Homo sapiens: one gene and its partner. The protein of the gene in region 1 purifies or fractionates together with the protein of each later gene. This does not show direct contact. Each region holds a gene or a part of one and is shown in the gene's direction. Other genes may lie near its edges. The genes, in order: GSX2 and KLHL8.

Region 1 (4,440 bases):
CTCCAGAGACCCACCGTCCACTAACCGCTTTCTAATTGAATTCTAATCACATTCAAATAGCTCAATAACCAGCCTCAGCTGCAATTCATAAAACTTTAATTGCCATCCATAAATCCTGGGCTCCCCAGAGCCGGGCATCCCTACAACCCAATTACACTTCTCTAGCAGGCAAGAGAGACTGTCACAGAGATGGAGAGGGGAAGACAGAGGATGGAAAGATAGAGCCGTGCCTCTAGCTAGTGCTCTCCTGGATTTGGGCACCTTGTTCTCTCAGGTGGAGGGAGTCCTGTCTCTAAGTTTCTTAGCACCATCATGAACTCAGGATTGAAGTTAGCTGCTCTGGAAAAAGGATCAGACTTCTAACTATTGCCCAACCACATGGCCCCAGCCCGCTTTTCTGCAGGGGGAAATGAAGAGAGAAAATGGCCACCTCTGCTGCCTTGCCTTCTCCGAAGATAAATAGTCCCAATAGTTTGGCAGCCACCCTCTCTCGGGCAGTAAGGGGTGTGCAAGACTTCCATGGACCAGAGAGAGTTCCCTTACAAAGCCACTTCTGCCAATCAGAGGCAAGATTCCCTGGATGGCTGAATCCTCTTCATCCTTTTTAGGTTCTTAAGATGCAGAGGAAAGAGTGCTTCCTGGTTAGCCTTGCTAAGCTGCCCATGATTGGTAAAAATGAGGGACAGGAAATCCTCAGACCCAGAGCGAAGGTCTATCTAATCCCTGCTGCGTCTTTAGGAGGGCTTGGTGTTTGAGGTCCTCCCTCCAAAATCTTCAGGATGGAGTTTGTAGGATTGCCCTGGAATGCCATGGTGTTACTACTTGGAGAAAGAAAAGGGTGACTCTTCAACATCTCTCTCTCTCTGCGGAAGTGGGAGGTGCCGATCAGAAAGGGAAACAAGGAAGGGTCGTTGGTCTGAGTGGCCCCAGGAGGGCCCCAAGTACAAAGACACTTCAGACCTTGTCGAACATCAGCATGAAAAGCTTGACGGTTTCTTAGCTGGGAGGCCTCACAGTTCTGCGCCGGACAGTCCTGAACTAACCACCTGAATGACCTCTGCCAAGTCCAAAAGCTGTGGACAGGGGTAGGTGTAACCGTGGCCAGAGCTGCGCTCAGGGACTGGACGACTGCCAGTCCGTCGCCCGCACAATCCTGCTCCAAACCGCAGGCCTCACACTTCACCGCGCCGCAGCCACCCCTACCACAGAGGAGCTGGAAACACTGAGCATTCCTATTAAATAAGCCTCCAAGTCCCCACCTGGTACGCTTTGCGGTGGGGCGTGGGGAAGAGTTGGGCTGCGGCCAGGGTAGCGAGAGGGGGTGGGATGGAGGATGCAGCGCTGTGATTTCTCAGTAAAGCGTGGAGAAAGAGGGGGAGGAGGCCGGCCTCCCCGGGAAATTAACAAAACCTACACTTTGCAAAGTCTCCCCCATCCCCCTCCCCCGAGTTCTTCCCCGCCGCGCGCCCGCCCCTCCTCGCGGCTTCTGTTGTGACTCGGGCAGCCTATCCCGAGGGTGCGGAGCTGCCGAGGAGCCTGAGCCGAGCGGTACTCCGCAGCATCACGTGCCAGGGTGGGGGGCTATAAAATACCCGAGCCGGGGCGCCGGGCGGGGGACGTGAGGACCAGCCCTCTCCGGGGACCCCTTTGTTCCCAGCCCAGACGCCAACACCTCTGCGTCCCCAAGGGCTTGACTGCCCGTGTCTGCGCGGCTCCCAGGGCAGAGCTTAGAACACTAGAGGAGAGGGGTCGCCGCGAACTGCCGGGGCTTCCAGCCACCCACCCCTCTCGACATGTCGCGCTCCTTCTATGTCGACTCGCTCATCATCAAGGACACCTCACGGCCTGCGCCCTCGCTGCCTGAACCGCACCCCGGGCCGGATTTCTTCATCCCGCTTGGCATGCCGCCCCCATTGGTGATGTCCGTGTCCGGCCCCGGCTGCCCGTCCCGCAAGAGCGGCGCGTTCTGCGTGTGCCCTCTCTGCGTCACTTCGCACCTGCACTCCTCTCGGGGGTCTGTGGGCGCCGGCAGCGGGGGCGCAGGGGCCGGGGTTACCGGGGCCGGAGGCAGTGGGGTGGCAGGGGCCGCAGGGGCACTGCCTCTGCTTAAGGGCCAGTTCTCTTCGGCTCCTGGGGACGCGCAGTTTTGCCCGCGGGTGAACCATGCGCATCATCACCACCACCCGCCGCAGCACCACCATCACCATCATCAGCCCCAGCAGCCTGGCTCGGCCGCGGCGGCGGCAGCAGCAGCAGCGGCGGCGGCGGCCGCGGCGGCCTTGGGGCACCCGCAGCACCACGCACCTGTCTGCACCGCCACCACCTACAACGTGGCGGACCCGCGGAGATTCCACTGCCTCACCATGGGTAGGGCGGGGTCTTGGGGCACCTGCGCTCCGCGCCTTTCGCGCTCCTGGAGCAAACTTTCCACCTCCAGTGGAGGAAGTGGGAGCCCGGGGACAGGGTGAAGAGAGAGGACGGGCTTTTAGTGTAACCGTAGAGTCAGCCACAGAAGTTCCACGAAAGTGGAAGTTAGTTTGCCAGCTTCTCCACTCAGCCTGGTGCGTTTTACTCCTAGTAGTAGGTGCTCGAGTATTGCCTTATTAATACTGGGGCCTTAGGGACCTCGAACGTCACGGCGGATAAACCAGAGGTTAACTGCTTGGGATTTGGGGTGGGTGTGTTTGAACCTGTGTGGCATCCCCGCGTCGGGGCGGCTAAAGCGTCTTGACGTTTTTGGCTAAGCCTGCGCGCTTCTCCGCTTGGCTCAAAGGGAGGCGATCAGATAGTGCAAGCCCCCATCCCTCTTTAATCCTGTGACTTCGCATCCTGCGCATCGAAGACCTTTATTTGCTTTGCACGTCTCTTTTCTTCCCCGCTAAGCAACCACGTGCCTTGAAATGGGAAAGGGATACAGATGTTCGGCTGGGCTTCCCCGGGTGGGTCCCTGAAATGCGTCCTGGTTAGCACATGGGGTGGGAGCACCTTGCCCGAGCCTTACCTCTCTACCCTCTCTTCGCCGGTCCGCAGGAGGCTCTGACGCCAGCCAGGTACCCAATGGCAAGAGGATGAGGACGGCGTTCACTAGCACGCAACTCCTGGAGCTGGAGAGAGAATTCTCTTCCAACATGTACCTGTCTCGACTCCGGAGGATTGAAATCGCCACTTACCTGAACCTGTCGGAGAAGCAGGTGAAAATCTGGTTTCAGAACCGCCGAGTGAAGCACAAGAAGGAGGGGAAGGGCACGCAGAGGAACAGTCACGCGGGCTGCAAGTGCGTCGGGAGCCAGGTGCACTACGCGCGCTCCGAGGATGAGGACTCCCTGTCGCCGGCCTCAGCCAACGATGACAAGGAGATTTCCCCCTTATGAGGGAGGGCCTCCTCCCTCACATCCCCCGCTCCTGGCAGACCAGGCAACGCCAAGGCGTGGGGCACCCAGGGGCCAGAATCCTTGCTCATTGCAGTGGTCCCATCTGGAGAAGAAACGAACCTGGAAGTTCTGGAATGGACAAGCCGGGACCTGACCCTTCGCGTCTCCTTCTTGACCTGTTTATCTAGGACTCCAACTTGAAGTTACAGATTTTTTTAAAAAATGTAAATAACCTATAATTCAACTCATTCTTGTCGTATAACAGAGGAAAAACAGGGTTGGTTTAAGTTTAACACTGTATGGGGTTTTTGAAAGCACATGTCAGTTCCCCATCCCTACTCTCTTTCAGAACTCGATAAGAACACAGGATTTATTGATTATTTTCTGTTGTCGTTTTCAAACAAAAACACCCAAGTTGAAAATAATTTAGAAAATTAGACCTTGTAGGTCTTGCTTTCTGAAATTTCGCCTGGGGAGAATTTAAAATCTAAGTCGCTGGAAGTCCCTTTGTATGTGAATAGGTTTATATAAAATTTATATTTATATTTATTTAAATAAATGAAACAAAAACCAGAATTTTAAATCTGTGGTGTTTGCTCTCCCTATCTTCTCCTGCCCCCTCCTCCAATGTCTAGAGAAAGGCATATGCAGGAAAAAGCTGTCTGAGGAATTCGAGGAAAATGTTGAGTAAGAACTTGGTAATGTGGGTCTCTTGACTGAGGGAGTTTGTGGCTCAATGGGTTTTCTATGTAACAGAACTTTCGCCAAGGAGACACCTTTAGTCATGATGGCATCTACCAGGCAGTGCCTCTCCATCCTTAAAATAGGCAACCTCCTCACAGTTGATAGGACAAATCACTCCATTTGGAATGACACTGACCATTAACGACAGGTAAACCTTTATTTAGCAAGGAAGGGTAAAAATCCCCCATCTAGTTTTTGTTTTCTTCTTTCTACTTCCTCATTTCTCTCAGTACGAAAACTTGAATTATGTGAAGGAATTTGTAGAGTCAGAATAGTTTTAGGAAGAGCAACAATCCATCAAACAGGTCAGAAGCAAACAGTGGAA
Region 2 (3,815 bases), about 33 Mb from region 1:
TGGAATATATGCTGATTAATGTATCAGTCTAAAGGGAAGATTTTTAGTAACATACTTAGTACTCTAACCTGTTTGACACTTTCATTAATGACTTGAATACCAGCTTTTTAGATATCCTAAGGTGGAAAGATCACTAAGGCATGTGACCAAATCAGGATTCCAAAGACGGAGTAGACCACATATACTCTAGACAAAAACCTAAAAAATGTTAAAATTAGAGTTATAGGTTAAAACCTGCCTTAGGTATTTTAAAAACTCAATCCCACGAGTACAACATAACATGGTGGGAAATCAGGTTTTTGATTGTTTCATATGGAGAAAAGTACCTGAACCATTATGAAACACAGCTCTTAAAAAAAAGGAAAGGAAAAAAGTGAATATAATACAGTTGCCTACATTAAAAGAAGTGAAGCCTTAGATTAAGGGAGTTATAGTTGTATTGTTCTTGACACTGATCTCTCCGTATCTATAGATGTATTGTTGAAGTAGGGTATATAACACCAGTTGGGGTATGGGAATAAAAGATTAGACTCTCTGTACATTTTTAAAAATTTATTTTGGGTGGATGTTTTATAATGAACATAACTTGTTAGTACAGTAACATGTTTATAATTTGAAAATAAGATCTATAGAAAATGCACAAAAATGGATTGTAATAAATGTGAGAATGATAATCTGGAATGCATGTAAGAAAAAACTAGCAGGTTAGTAATACAACTGAAAACCATGTTATCTACAAAAAATAGTTGAAGCGTTGTGATCTGGAGACAAGAAAACTTACAGGAGTTACTAGATATTTTAAGAGTGTATGTTGATTTAGTAGGAAGGAATAAATATTTGTTTATGATTCAGTATAGTAGCAATGAAGCATACTGTAATTCCTCCTAGTGATTGGAATTGTATTGTCAGAAAGATCACATATATTTTGCACCAAATGGGAGATTAAATTTTATTGCCTATTTTTTTTCAACTTTATTGTTCTGTTAATAGCGTGAGGATTTCAAAGACTGAGCTTAATAATTTGTATAAAACTAGATACTAGAATAATTCTGTCTCTGTGTCAGAGTGAAAATATAATGCGAGAAGAGAGAAGAGGGCTATCTTAGTAAATATTGAAAATATTGCTGAAGAGTTTCTTTTAATAAAACTGCAGGTGGGCCGGGCATGGTGGCTCATGCCTGTAATCCCAGCACTTTGGGAGGCCAAGATGGGCGGATCACCTGAGGTCAGGAGTTTGAGACCAGCCTGGCCAACATGGCAAAACACCGTCTCTACTAAAAATACAAAAATTAGCTGGGCGTGGTGGCGGGTGCCTGTAATCCCAGCTGCTGCGGAGGCTAAGGCATGAGAATCGCTTGAACCCAGGAAGTGGAGGTTGCAGTGAGCCGAGATTGCGCCATTGCACTCCAGTCTGGATGACAAGAGCAAAATTCCGTCTCAAAAAAAAAAAACTTGCAGGTGATATATATATATACACACACACATACACACATATATATGATATATAATGATACTGACCTTAATATATATAAATGTATCACCCACAGTTTAATTAAAAGAAACAAACCTGAACTAGTAAAACCATACCTGAGACATTGTGGCTTATATGGTTGGCAAATTAGCACCATTCTGCAAAAATGACTTGTTATCAAAATGAGCAATTAAAAACTAAACCACACATGGGGATATGTTGCCTCTAATTTTCTATTTTTGATTAATAATATTTTCAACTGGTTTTTGCTTCTTGTGTTAAAATATGAAAGATTAAAAAAAAATGTGAAGACATTTTAAGCTTTTTTTCCCCTCATGAAAAAGAATCCTAGAAAAAAAAAAAGCTAGTCTTAAACTGTTATCTCCCACTGTCTACAAATGACATTTTAATACTTTAATAGGGAGTGATTTACACTATGTGATAACTGCATGGATTAAAATGGGAGATAAAATCCCAAAGTACTTTTTTAATCTTTATATCCCTGTTACTATGTTGGTTTTTAGCCAAAGATTGAATGAAACTTCTCTAGCAAAATAGCAATTGAATTTCTTTAATCTTTTAAAATATGCCCCGAGCATTTACAATCTGTGTGAAAAATAATAGAGCTACAATTATTTTGTCATATTATTTGTTTATAACTTATATAGCCCCAAATCATCTTTTTGGCATTTCAATACATTTTCACATGTGAAATATCTGGTTATCTTTATTTTTTTATTTCATCTTTCCACTGAAATGGACACCGATGTTTGTTTAAGCTATGAGTCTGTTGAAACCCATCATCCTGACAGCATGTCTAAAGGTTCACTTATTTATTCAAAAAAAAGTTTTAAATGCCCACCACAAGACACACCAAGTGGTAAAGATACAACTTTGTTTTTTGCTACCAGCAGTAGAAAACATAGCCAGTGTCTCTGCCTCTGTATAGCTTACATTGTAGAAGAGAAGATAACAAATAATGACATAAGGGCAATAATATTAGCATGGGGTGAGTAAAGGGTGCTTGAGGAGTGGAGAACATCTTAATGAAGTCCCATTTATTATGATCTGAAGGAACTGCAGAATTTAGCCTGATTAAGTTATTATAGGTGGGGTAAGAGTGGTAAGTGGAGGGAGATGAAGAGCCTTCAAAAACCAGGCGATGAAAGAGAGCAAAGAGCATGAAAGTGGTCCAATGTAGTTGGAAGATTAAGGGGAAGAGTGTCTAGAAATGAGGCAGAAAGAGTAAGTAAAGGTTGAAGGCCTTTCAAGTTTGCCAAGGATATTTTATCTGATGGGCTTTGAATTAAACATATATATTTAATATGCATGTATAGTAAATATACATTTTATATTTTTATTTAAATAATAGGGGAATTGTAGGATCAGATTTCTCTTTTCAGAGAACTTCTGCATTCAAAATGGAGAAGGGATTTGAGGATGACCAGAGTGAAAACAGTCTGACAGACCAAAAAGGGTTATTGTAATTCTTCATCCCTTGATGTAAAGAAATAATGGTGGCTTAGACTATACTGATAGAAATTGAGATAGAGAAAAGAGGACATATTTGAAAGATAGTTCAGAGGTGTATGGTCAAAAACACTTTATGATAATTAGAAAGAACAGTTAGGTAGAGGCAAAGATGATTCTTCGGTTTCTGCCTTAAGCAACTGGATGGATAATGGTATGATTTCTGAATTAGGAAAACAACATGGTGAATGGGATAAAATTTTTGTTTGTTTTGTGATGGGGTTGTATTAATTTTCTATGTCCATGTAACAAATTGCCCCCAATTTAGCAGCTTAAAATAGCACCCATTTATTAGCTCACAGTTCAAAAGTCATGCAGGTTTTGCTAGGCTTTCTACTTAGGGTCCCACAAGGCCAGAATCAAGAGATTGGGCTAGGCTTTTGTCTGGAGGCACTGGGGAAGAAGCCACTTCCAGGGCCATTTAGGTTATTGATAGAATTCAGTTCCTTGTGGCTATAGGACTGTTTCTCATTTTTATTGGCTGTTGGCTACAAGTCACTGCCAGATCCTTCCCACATGTTCCCCCCCACCTTCAAACAAGCAATGGCACACTGCATTCACTTGGTTTTTTGAATTTCTGACAATCAGCTGGAGAAACCTCTCTGCTTTTGAAGGTTTGTTTGATTAGATTAGGCCCGCCAAGGTCACCTCCCTTTTGCCATATAATGTAGCATAGTCATGAGAGTAACACCAGGGGATGAAGGTCATGGGGGATGAGGAGTATCTTAAAATTCTGCCTACCACAGCGAGGTGGGCAGTGAGTTTCATTTCAGATTAAAGTTAAGGTTGAAGAGCCAGCAAGACATATTTGAGG

The links.
Region 2: the proteins of GSX2 (region 1) and KLHL8 purify together in Homo sapiens (affinity purification with mass spectrometry; one large-scale study listed by BioGRID and IntAct). This does not show direct contact.

The regions. Positions count from the first base shown.
Region 1 is NC_000004.12:54,098,552-54,102,991, forward strand, and holds GSX2 (GS homeobox 2), read left to right. Parts: upstream 1-1,611; 5' UTR 1,612-1,793; coding exon 1,794-2,367; intron 2,368-3,030; coding exon 3,031-3,371; 3' UTR 3,372-3,947; downstream 3,948-4,440. UniProt on the Homo sapiens protein: Transcription factor that binds 5'-CNAATTAG-3' DNA sequence and regulates the expression of numerous genes including genes important for brain development.
Region 2 is NC_000004.12:87,171,920-87,175,734, reverse strand, and holds part of KLHL8 (kelch-like protein 8), read left to right. Parts: intron 1-3,815. UniProt on the Homo sapiens protein: Substrate-specific adapter of a BCR (BTB-CUL3-RBX1) E3 ubiquitin ligase complex required for The BCR(KLHL8) ubiquitin ligase complex mediates ubiquitination and degradation of RAPSN.